Homo sapiens: one gene and its partners. The protein of the gene in region 2 purifies or fractionates together with the protein of the main gene of each other region. This does not show direct contact. Each region holds a gene or a part of one and is shown on either strand. Other genes may lie near its edges.

Region 1 (3,655 bases), on a different chromosome or scaffold from region 2:
AAAAATTAGAAAATTAGCCAGGCATGGTGGAGCGTGCCTGAAGTCCCAGCTACTTGGAGGACTGAGGTGGGAGGATTGTTTGAGCTGGGAGGTTGAGGCTGCAATGAGCTGTGATTGTGCCACTGTACTTCAGCCTGGGTGACAACGCAAGACACTGTCTCAGAAAAGAAAAAAAGAGAGAAAAGGCTGAACTTACACATCTTTGTACTCTTTGAGGACTCGGTTTGTATAAAACATGGCGGCATCATTCATTTCTTTCACATAAGGGCCAGGCTTGGGAGCCTAGAGAGAGACAAGCTGTCAGTGACTCAGGACCTCTCCAACTATATTGCCTTCCCTCTTAAAATCTATACCCACCCCCAGCCCTGGAATCTGCGCTGCTCACCATAGCCACCCAGCCCAGGGCCTGGATACTTTCGCTGACAGCTGACAGGTGATTAAACAACTTGCTGCCTCGGTTCTTCTCCCGAAAGGTTATCACTTCTTTGATCTGCTCTGAGATGGGTGCCAACAAATCGGAAAGCTTATTCTAGGAAAAGATACAAGAAAAGATTCAGGTTAACATCTTTCCACAAAGGTGTCTATGCCTTCTGATCCTGAAGGCAAGAATTCTCTATGGACTCTAGTGAGCACCCAAATAAACTGCATGAGTCCTGTCCTGATTCCTAAGGCTAAAATACTGCTCATCATCTCACTCTCCTCGTAGAGTTCCAACTCCTCAGGCTGCACCTGATGGTTCTTCATGATCAGGACCCATACTTCAGCTATACCACAGAACCTCCATTTCAGCCACCTGTCTCTTTTTTGTTCCACTCAGAGGACATACACTCAGGACATCATTCCTGTGCCTTACTCATGATGTTCTCTTTTTTTCCCATGAATCCAAATTTTCCTCATGCTTCATGAGGGCCCTCCAACCCAGCCACACCAGCCTCCTACAGCATTTGTTGTCAGCATAACCAATCTTGGCATTTTATCACTCACCAATACAAACTATTAATGGACCCATGTGAATATGTTTTACTTTCTCATTAATTCTTCAAAGACGAGCTCTTTTATCATCATGAAAGCCCCCAATGCATTGCCAGCCATATAGTAGCTGCTGTAAAGAACTGATGAATCAAATGCAATTAGGGGGCTTAGTCTGGGCATGGTGACCCACGCCTGTAATCCCAGCACTTTGGGAGGCCAAGGCAGGAGAACTGCTTGAGACCAGGAGTTCAAGACAGACTGAACAACACAGCACAACTTTGTCTCTACAAATAATAAAAAGAATTAGGGCCAGGCATGGTGGCTCACGCCTGTAATCCCAGCACTTTGGGAGGCCAAGGTGGGCAGATCGCTTGAGTCCAGGAGTTTAAGATCAGCCTGGGCAACATGGGGAAACCCCATCTCTATAAAAATACAAAAATCAGCTGGGCATGGTGGCGCATGCCTGTAGTCCCAGCTATTCAGGAGGCTGAGGTGGGAGAATCACTTGAGCCTGGGAGGTGGAGGTTTCAGTGAGCCGAGATCCTGCCACTGCACTCCAGCCTGGGCGACAGAGAGAAACTCCATCTCAGAAATAAATAAATAAATAAGTAAGTAAATAAGCAAGCCAGGCATGGTGGTGCACACTGTAGTCAAGGCTACTCAGGAGGCTGAGGTGGGAGGATCATTACACCTGGGAGGTCAAGGCTTCAGTGAGCTGTGATTGCACCACTACCCTCCAGTCTGGGTGACAAAACAACACCCTGTCTCAAAAAAAAAATTTTTTTTTAAACATAAATAAAATAAAAAACAATTAGGGGCTTAGCATTCAAGTAGGCACCTTGGCAAAATGGATGAATTTTGTTTGTGTTTGCACCCTTCCTCCAAAGCTCCATTTCCTGAACATCTCAATTCTCAGATCTTAACCATTCAGGACAGATTAAGAATTAAAATCTAATTCTACATATTAGAATTAGATGGCATCTATACACACACACACACACACACACACAATGTTTTTTGAGAGAAGGTCTTGCTCTGTCGCCCAGGCTGGAGTGCAGTGGTGTGTTCATGGCTCACTGCATCCTCAAACTTTCAGGCCCAAATCTTCCTCCCATTTCAGCCTCTCAAGTAGCTGGGACTATACGCATGCACCACCTTGCCTGGCTATTTTTATTTATTTTATTTTTTTAATTTTTAATAGAGACGAGGTCTTGCTATGTTGCCCAGGCTGGTCTCAAACTCCTGGCCTCAAGTGATCCTCCTGCCTCAGCCTCCCAAAGTGCTGGGATTACAGGAATGAGCCAGCACACTTAACCAGAATCTAATATATTTGACATTATCTTGCACTATTTTTATATTATCTAGGCATGCTGAGGGTCAAGGGTTTTAATACAGCATTTAGGACAACTTGCTTTATTATTCCTCTGTAACTAGGAAAACCAAATGCAAAAGAAGGAAACCTATATTCTTTGACTCCAAGAGAAATCTAAATTTTCTCTAATTCAACTTTTCACATCTTGCACCATAAAATTTTGAGGTGGGAGTAAAATTAAAGAGAGAGTCTCCCAACCAGTGAAGGATGAGGAGAGAAGCAATACTGTAGGAGTTTTAAGATCTCCACAGGAGCACTACTAAAGCCCATCCACAGTGAAGCAAGAGAATCATCTTTAAAGGGCTTTGGAGACACTATGATGAATGTGGACTCAGCAAAGAGGCAGGCAAGCAAAGTCCCAGGGATAACCACAGTCCTATGCAAAATGACAGAGAAAAAGCCAGTAGAGACCATTAAGTACCCAATAGTACCTTCCCATTAAGGCACTTGAAGTATGGCTCTACCTCTGGGACTTGGTATGAACATATATTATCAAAAGCCTAGTAGGTCTATTTTAAAATGTTATAATAGCTTGACATAAATCTCTCAACTCGTCCTGAGCATCAAACCAAAATGAAACCAGCTAGTAGTGAACTTACTTCTGCTGGCTGTTGACACTGAGAAGCTGTAACCAACAGAGCTCGCTCCAACTTCAAACCTGTGTGGACCATCTCCGCCTGCCAGAAAGAAGAATCAGCTATTGATGACACATTATAACTAGAGAAGTCTTGATAAGAATAACCTGAAACCTCTACTTCCATGTACTCTGATAGCAACCCAGGCACTTCATGTTATCCTCCTCATGTATTCCAGATTCCAGGGACTGAGAGCAGAATTACATACACTACTGTTCCTATTGGAACTCATCAGGGATATATATCCAGAGTTGGAAGTGAAGTTAATTGGATAATCACCTAGCTTACATGAAGTCATGTTAGCATCTTACACATGCATTGTGATACCGTGCACTGAAAAATCCTTCCTATTTCACATCAGCAAAATAAAACAAACAGCAACCAAAAAAACACCTTTCTTTTCTCAAAAATTGGAGACAGGAGTAAAGGCAAAGGCCTAAATTTCTGCTGAAAATTCTCAAGGTATTTACTCCTTTAGATTAAAGCTATCTCTCAAATGCCAGATACCATGACCCATTAATAAATAATTAAATCAATTTAGTGAGCTTAATGGAACAAAAGTATGAGTGCAGTGCACCAACTTCAAGTTATTTCCAAATAAAAAGTTAAAAAAAAAAAAAGTACAGCAGAAGTAGTATAAATATCATCTTGTGAAACTTTTATCTCAGTTACGAAT
Region 2 (3,525 bases):
CACCTGCGCAACCTTGTCCAGAGTCCCCTGTGTATCCTGCCGGCACCTCCTCCAGGGAGCCTCTGAGTCTTGCCTAGTTGAGCAGCAGCCCCCATCCCTGTCCTCCACAGCCTTCAGTGCAGTCCTACAGGGCAGCCTCTTCGGGCAGCTGGGCACCATGCCCTCCACCTACAGCACCCTCTTCCTCAGCGGCCAGGGCCTGGCTGGGATCTTTGCTGCCCTTGCCATGCTCCTGTCCATGGCCAGTGAGTGCACTTGGGTGGCTGGAGGGCTGGGGTGGCCTCTGAGGTTTGGGGAAGAGAGAGGGCATGTGAGAGCAAGACACATGGGTTCTGGGTGAAGATGGAGGTAAGCAGGTGATATGGAAATGGGGATTGGGTCTGGGGCTAGGGAGTGGGGCTCATGGGCCCTGCAGTGAGGAGTAATAACCAAGTGAGGACTGGGTTAACTCAGGGACAGGGGCAGGATTCCTGGGGCTAATACTGGCATGTGGCAGCAGGTTGAAGTTGAAGGATAAGGGGATGGGTTTGGGATTCAGATAGTCTTGGGTTTGAATCTGCTTCACCGCTTACCAGCTAGGGGTGTTGGACAAGGCTTGTCACCTCTCTGTGCTAGCTTCCCCACCGACGTGATTGGTATAGCTCCCTGCTCAGATTGTAATGAGCATGCAATGAGAGAAGGCTACTGGCACATAGTACGTGCTCAACAAAAATGACACATGGGGAAAGTGAGAGAAGTGCAGGGCTGCTCTGGGGCCCTGTACAAGATTCCCATTTGTCAGTGAAGGGAGGAGCGGAAGAGGCTGGGAGTGGGTCTGAGAAGTACACAATGGGAAGTGGGACAAGAGTTGGAAGCCCCGTGGGAGCCGGCGGGACCAGGTGCCTCTCTTCTGCAGCTGAAGTTCCTCCGCAGGTGGCGTGGACGCCGAGACCTCTGCCCTGGGGTACTTTATCACGCCCTGTGTGGGCATCCTCATGTCCATCGTGTGTTACCTGAGCCTGCCTCACCTGGTGAGCCTGCTGTTGGGCTCGAGGCCCCACCTCAAAGCATCTTGGATAGAGTCCTGAGCCTGAGGCCCTGAGAGAGGCCAGGGGAGGTGGAGGAGACCTGGTCTCAGCCCTGACCCCCAGAGAAGACACTGAGGGGCCCCAGCCTCCAGGCCAATGGTATGGGGAGGGATCCAGACACCTCAGGCAAGCCAGGCAGGCCCAACACTTTCCTGTCCTTCTGCAGAAGTTTGCCCGCTACTACCTGGCCAATAAATCATCCCAGGCCCAAGCTCAGGAGCTGGAGACCAAAGCTGAGCTCCTCCAGTCTGGTAAGCCCTGAGACCCTCCTGGGGAGGTGGGAGATGCAGAGGAAGCTAGAGCCACCTCCCCTGGGAAGCTGTTCCATCTGTTCCCAGCCAGAGCCCACCCCTAGTAGCCTTGTGCAAACAGGAAGATCATGAAGGGAAGTTGGTAGGATTAAAGTCATCCCTGCTGTTGTTTGGGCCTCAGTTTCCACCTCTATAAAATGGGGAGGCGACAGAGGTTCCATGCATGCAAACTTTGGATCCGAAGACCTCTGAATTGGAATACTAGTTTCACAACATCCCAGCTGTGTGGCCTGAGACAAACCACTTAGCCACTGCACCCCTCTGAACCTCAATGTGTCATTTGTAAAGCAATGGTAATGAGATAATCCATCTAAGGTGCTTCGCTCATCACCCGACCCATGCACGCGCTTCCTGGTAGCTATGCATATTTCCATCATGAATTCCCTTCGCCTGCAGCCTCAGCTTAGGCTGGAGGAAGATCACCTTTTTTTGTTTTGGGGTGAGGGGGTTGTTGTTATTTTGAGTCAGGATCTCACTCTGTCACCTAGGCTGCACTGCAGTGCTATCACAACTCAACTGCAGCCTCGACCTCCTGGGCTCAAGTGAGCCACCTCAGTCTCCCGAGTAGCTGGGACTATAGGTGCAGGCTGCCATGCCCGGCTAATTTTTTTATTTTTGTAGAAATGGGGATTCACCATGTTGCCCAGGCTGGTCTCGAACTCCTGGGCTCAAGCAATATGCCCGCCTCGGCCTTCCAAAATGTTGGGATTACAGGCGTGAGCCACCATGCTGAGCTGAGGATCACTTGTTTTAACTGCTGGGAATCTCCCTTCGTTGGGCCTGGCTGTCGGGAAACCTGGGTCACAAGCATGACCCTTCCCCGTCCCCCCTCACCCCAGATGAGAACGGGATTCCCAGTAGTCCCCAGAAAGTAGCTCTGACCCTGGATCTTGACCTGGAGAAGGAGCCGGAATCAGAGCCAGATGAGCCCCAGAAGCCAGGAAAACCTTCAGTCTTCACTGTCTTCCAGAAGGTTTGGCTTGGATACAGCCCCCAACCACCATCTTTGGGGAAGAATGGGGCTCACATTGACTCCAAGGTCATAGGGTCACAGTGGGTCAGGGACACAGCTGGGCCAGGCCCCAAGTGTCCTGCTCCCACATGGGGCTTGGGCAAGAGGGTGGGGCCCTGGGACTGCCCTGCCTGCTCACACCCCTGCCTCTGGCTCCCAGATCTGGCTGACAGCGCTGTGCCTTGTGTTGGTCTTCACAGTCACCCTGTCCGTCTTCCCCGCCATCACAGCCATGGTGACCAGCTCCACCAGTCCTGGGAAGTGGAGTGAGTGTCAGGGTGGAGAAGACGGCAGGGCAGGGGGTACAAAGGGGAGAGGACGGGAGAGGGGAGTTGGAGACCAGTATGAGCTGCAGCCGTTTCCCTCCCAGGTCAGTTCTTCAACCCCATCTGCTGCTTCCTCCTCTTCAACATCATGGACTGGCTGGGACGGAGCCTGACCTCTTACTTCCTGTGGGTAAGCACACCAGGGCTGGGTGATCCGATGTTTTAGGAAGCAGTTTGGGATCCGAGGGCTTGAAAGAGCATGGAGGTGATTTTCTGGTAGTCCAAATGGCCTGGTAATGCAACCACTGGCCAAGCAGCAGGGAGCACTTGGGCCCTGGAGGCGTGCAGGCCAGGGCTTGCACTGTGAGCTCCCTGAAAGCAAAAATCATGTCCAGCTGACCTCTGTGTCCCCAGCATCCAGCCTTTGCTGCTCAGAGAATGTTACATGGAGGTTCCTGCACCAGGTGAGGGACTGAGCAAGAGTCTTAGTTTTGGGGTTGGTTTTAGCCATGGTACTGTATCTTTAAATGAAATCTTCCAAAGAGACAATACATAACGCAGGTGAAAGAGGAGCTGGTCTCATCCAAGTCAGGACAGGAGCTGATCTACAGCTTCCAATCCCACTCAGAAACCCCATCTGCCCCCAAGGGGGTCTGTGGAACCACCAGTGGGTGCTCTGAGGAACCGAGTACGTAAACTGTAGATGCGGTGGAGAGCACAAGCTGGAGCCTGGGAGAGGCAGAGGTGAGCCCCAGGCCAGTCCCTGATTTCTGGGTGGACTTGGCCCAGGCCCCAGTGCTGGGTCCTCCCTCACTGGCTCACAAGGTAGGTCAGGTCAGAGGAGGTCAGGGGGTGACAGATGGGTCTAT
Region 3 (2,486 bases), on a different chromosome or scaffold from region 2:
TAGCTGGGACTGTAGGAGCATGCCACCATGGCTGGCTAATTTTTTTTTTTTTTTAAGATGCAGTCTTGCTGTGTTGTCCAGGTTGGTCTCAAACTCCTGGGCTCAAGTGATCCTCCCGCCTCAGCCTCCCAAAGTGCTGGGATTACAGGTGTGAGCCACTGTGCCCGGCCTGTCTAGGCTTTTAAAATACCATAGGATGCCTCAAAATCAAGGTTTCTCAACTTCAAGCACAATTGACATTTTGGGGCTGGATAATTCTTTTTTGTGGAATTGCAGGACATTTAGCAGGATCCCTGGACTCTATCAACTAGAGCCAGTAGCACCCTGCCCCCAGTTATGACAACCCAAAATGTCCCCAGACACTGCCAACTGTCCCAGGGGAGCGGGGAGAAGAAGGGAGCAAGATTGCCCCCAGTTGAGAATCACTGCTGTAAAAGATGAGAAATAACTGTTGTATAGCCTTAGCTCTTTACTGTCGATACCAGAAAGCAAGCTCTGGGCTCTACACCAAATAGCTCTATCAGGAATGATTCAATGTAGGTAAACAGAGGCGAGGCAGCGGGGAGCACAGCTGGTTAGTACGTTAGTGTGAGAAAGCAAATTGAAAGGAGAGACATCAAAGGAGCGAGCAGGGTCATCTGGGGCTCTGAATCCATAAACCAGATTTGTCCATATTCTCGAAAGAGCTCAGAGATGAAGCCTCACCTGCCTAGCTCTATCAACATGTTGTCATCCTTTGGGAAATCAGATTTCATGGAAACAGCACATTTTACCACAGTTGTTTAACACAGCTGATTTGACACAGCTACTTTTGATGCTTGACGGTGAGGATGGGGGTACATTTTAAGGCTGCCAAAATGGCTCAGTGTTTAATATCACATAATATGCATGTCAGATAACCATTCCTGACTCCTCAGTCCTTGCCCCAGCATCTGGGATAGATGAGGAATGGAATTGGCAATTTCAAAAAAGAAAGCTAGGGCTGGGCGCAGTGGCTCACACCTGTAATCCCAGCACTTTGGGAGGCTAAGTTAGGAGGATCACCTGAGGTCAGGAGTTCAAGACCAGCCTGGCCAACATGGAAAAACTCCATCTCTAATAAAAAATGTGAAAATCAACCAGACGTGGTGGCACACACCTGTAGTCCCAGCTACTCAGGAAGCTGAGGCAGGAGAATCGCTTGAACCCAGGAGACAGAAGTTGCAGTGAGCCTAGATCTCACCACTGCACTCCAGCATGGGCGACAGAACGAGACTCCGTCTCAACAACAACAAAAAAAGCTAGAAGTTTAATGATTTATTATGCCAGACCAAATTGTTCTTGCACCAAAATGTCCTCAAGCCGAAATGCCTAAATCCAAACAGCTGCCTCAGACAGTCACATGCCCTATTTGATCTGTGTCACAGATGGAGCTACGTTAACCATATTCATCACCTAGTTTGCATGAATATTACACAGTTCAGTTCTGAGCTGCCTTAGAGGGTGGGGTACCAGCAGCCATCTCATTTGGTACCCAGGACCACAAGGATCACAGTTTGGAAGCAACATCACACGTCAACTCCATTACTTCTGAGCTGTGTGACCTTGGGGAGAGCACTTAATTTCTGAAACCTTCGTTTCCTCATCTGCAAAATGGGGATAACAGTAGTACCCACCCTGCAGGGCTCTAAATGAGATAATAAAGTGTCCCAGTACTGTTATGATCATTGTTATCATAATCATGTCATGAACTATCAAATGGGCTTATTATTCAGCTTTGTGTATAGTCTCCCAATGGTCTAATGATCAGAAGGATGGTGCCAAGTAACTAGAGGAGGCCAGCACCTGTGCTCCCCTATAACTCAGGGCCTGCTTGGGGTGGGGAAGGCCCACGTCCAAACCAACAGTTACCCTTGAGTGCCCAGCTGCTCCCTGGCCTGGACTCTGAAGTTGGAATTGGTAGTTTCCTCTTGGGAATTTGTCCTGTCCTGATTTAGTCAGAGGAGCTGGTTTAATCTACAAGAGAGATGATTTCTTCTTGCCATGACTGTTGTAGCTGGTTGCTCTGGTTTCTCTGGTACAAAGTTTCATTTTATAGGAACCTAGGGAACCAAGAACTTCCTAAGGGTACATATGGGGATCTCTGTTAACATTAACCTTTTGGGAGACCAAAGTATTACCTTAGCTTATATTATACATATGCTGCTACTTGAAGTCAAAACATATCCAACCAGAGTTAGGAAGTGGGCCTTTTATTAATATATTACCTTGCTTCAGATTTTGACTGTTTCATTAAAAACCAAACAAAAAAAAAACTGCCATAGAGAACTGGTTTCTGAAGCAATCTCCACTTTGGTATGCTTACTTTGAGTGGCCTTAGGGAAGTAATGAAAAATAAATAAAATATGAACATATATCACAAATGTTTTTAAAAACATATTTTACAAATACATCTTTAAGAATAAAGCAATGTCTAAGTTTGTTTGCTTTTTAATGCTTTCTGTGGA

What was found.
Region 1: the proteins of SLC29A2 (region 2) and CAP1 purify together in Homo sapiens (affinity purification with mass spectrometry; one large-scale study listed by BioGRID and IntAct). This does not show direct contact.
Region 3: the proteins of SLC29A2 (region 2) and ADGRG2 purify together in Homo sapiens (affinity purification with mass spectrometry; one large-scale study listed by BioGRID and IntAct). This does not show direct contact.

The regions. Positions count from the first base shown.
Region 1 is NC_000001.11:40,061,101-40,064,755, reverse strand, and holds part of CAP1 (adenylyl cyclase-associated protein 1), read right to left. Parts: intron 3,022-3,655; coding exon 2,944-3,021; intron 530-2,943; coding exon 386-529; intron 283-385; coding exon 197-282; intron 1-196. UniProt on the Homo sapiens protein: Directly regulates filament dynamics and has been implicated in a number of complex developmental and morphological processes, including mRNA localization and the establishment of cell polarity.
Region 2 is NC_000011.10:66,365,257-66,368,781, reverse strand, and holds part of SLC29A2 (equilibrative nucleoside transporter 2), read left to right. Parts: intron 1-110; coding exon 111-245; intron 246-912; coding exon 913-1,010; intron 1,011-1,233; coding exon 1,234-1,318; intron 1,319-2,217; coding exon 2,218-2,351; coding exon of another isoform or gene 2,352-2,550; coding exon 2,551-2,656; intron 2,657-2,760; coding exon 2,761-2,846; intron 2,847-3,525. UniProt on the Homo sapiens protein: Bidirectional uniporter involved in the facilitative transport of nucleosides and nucleobases, and contributes to maintaining their cellular homeostasis. Functions as a Na(+)-independent, passive transporter.
Region 3 is NC_000023.11:18,991,085-18,993,570, reverse strand, and holds part of ADGRG2 (adhesion G-protein coupled receptor G2 isoform 1 precursor), read left to right. Parts: intron 1-2,486. UniProt on the Homo sapiens protein: Adhesion G-protein coupled receptor (aGPCR) for steroid hormones, such as dehydroepiandrosterone (DHEA; also named 3beta-hydroxyandrost-5-en-17-one) and androstenedione.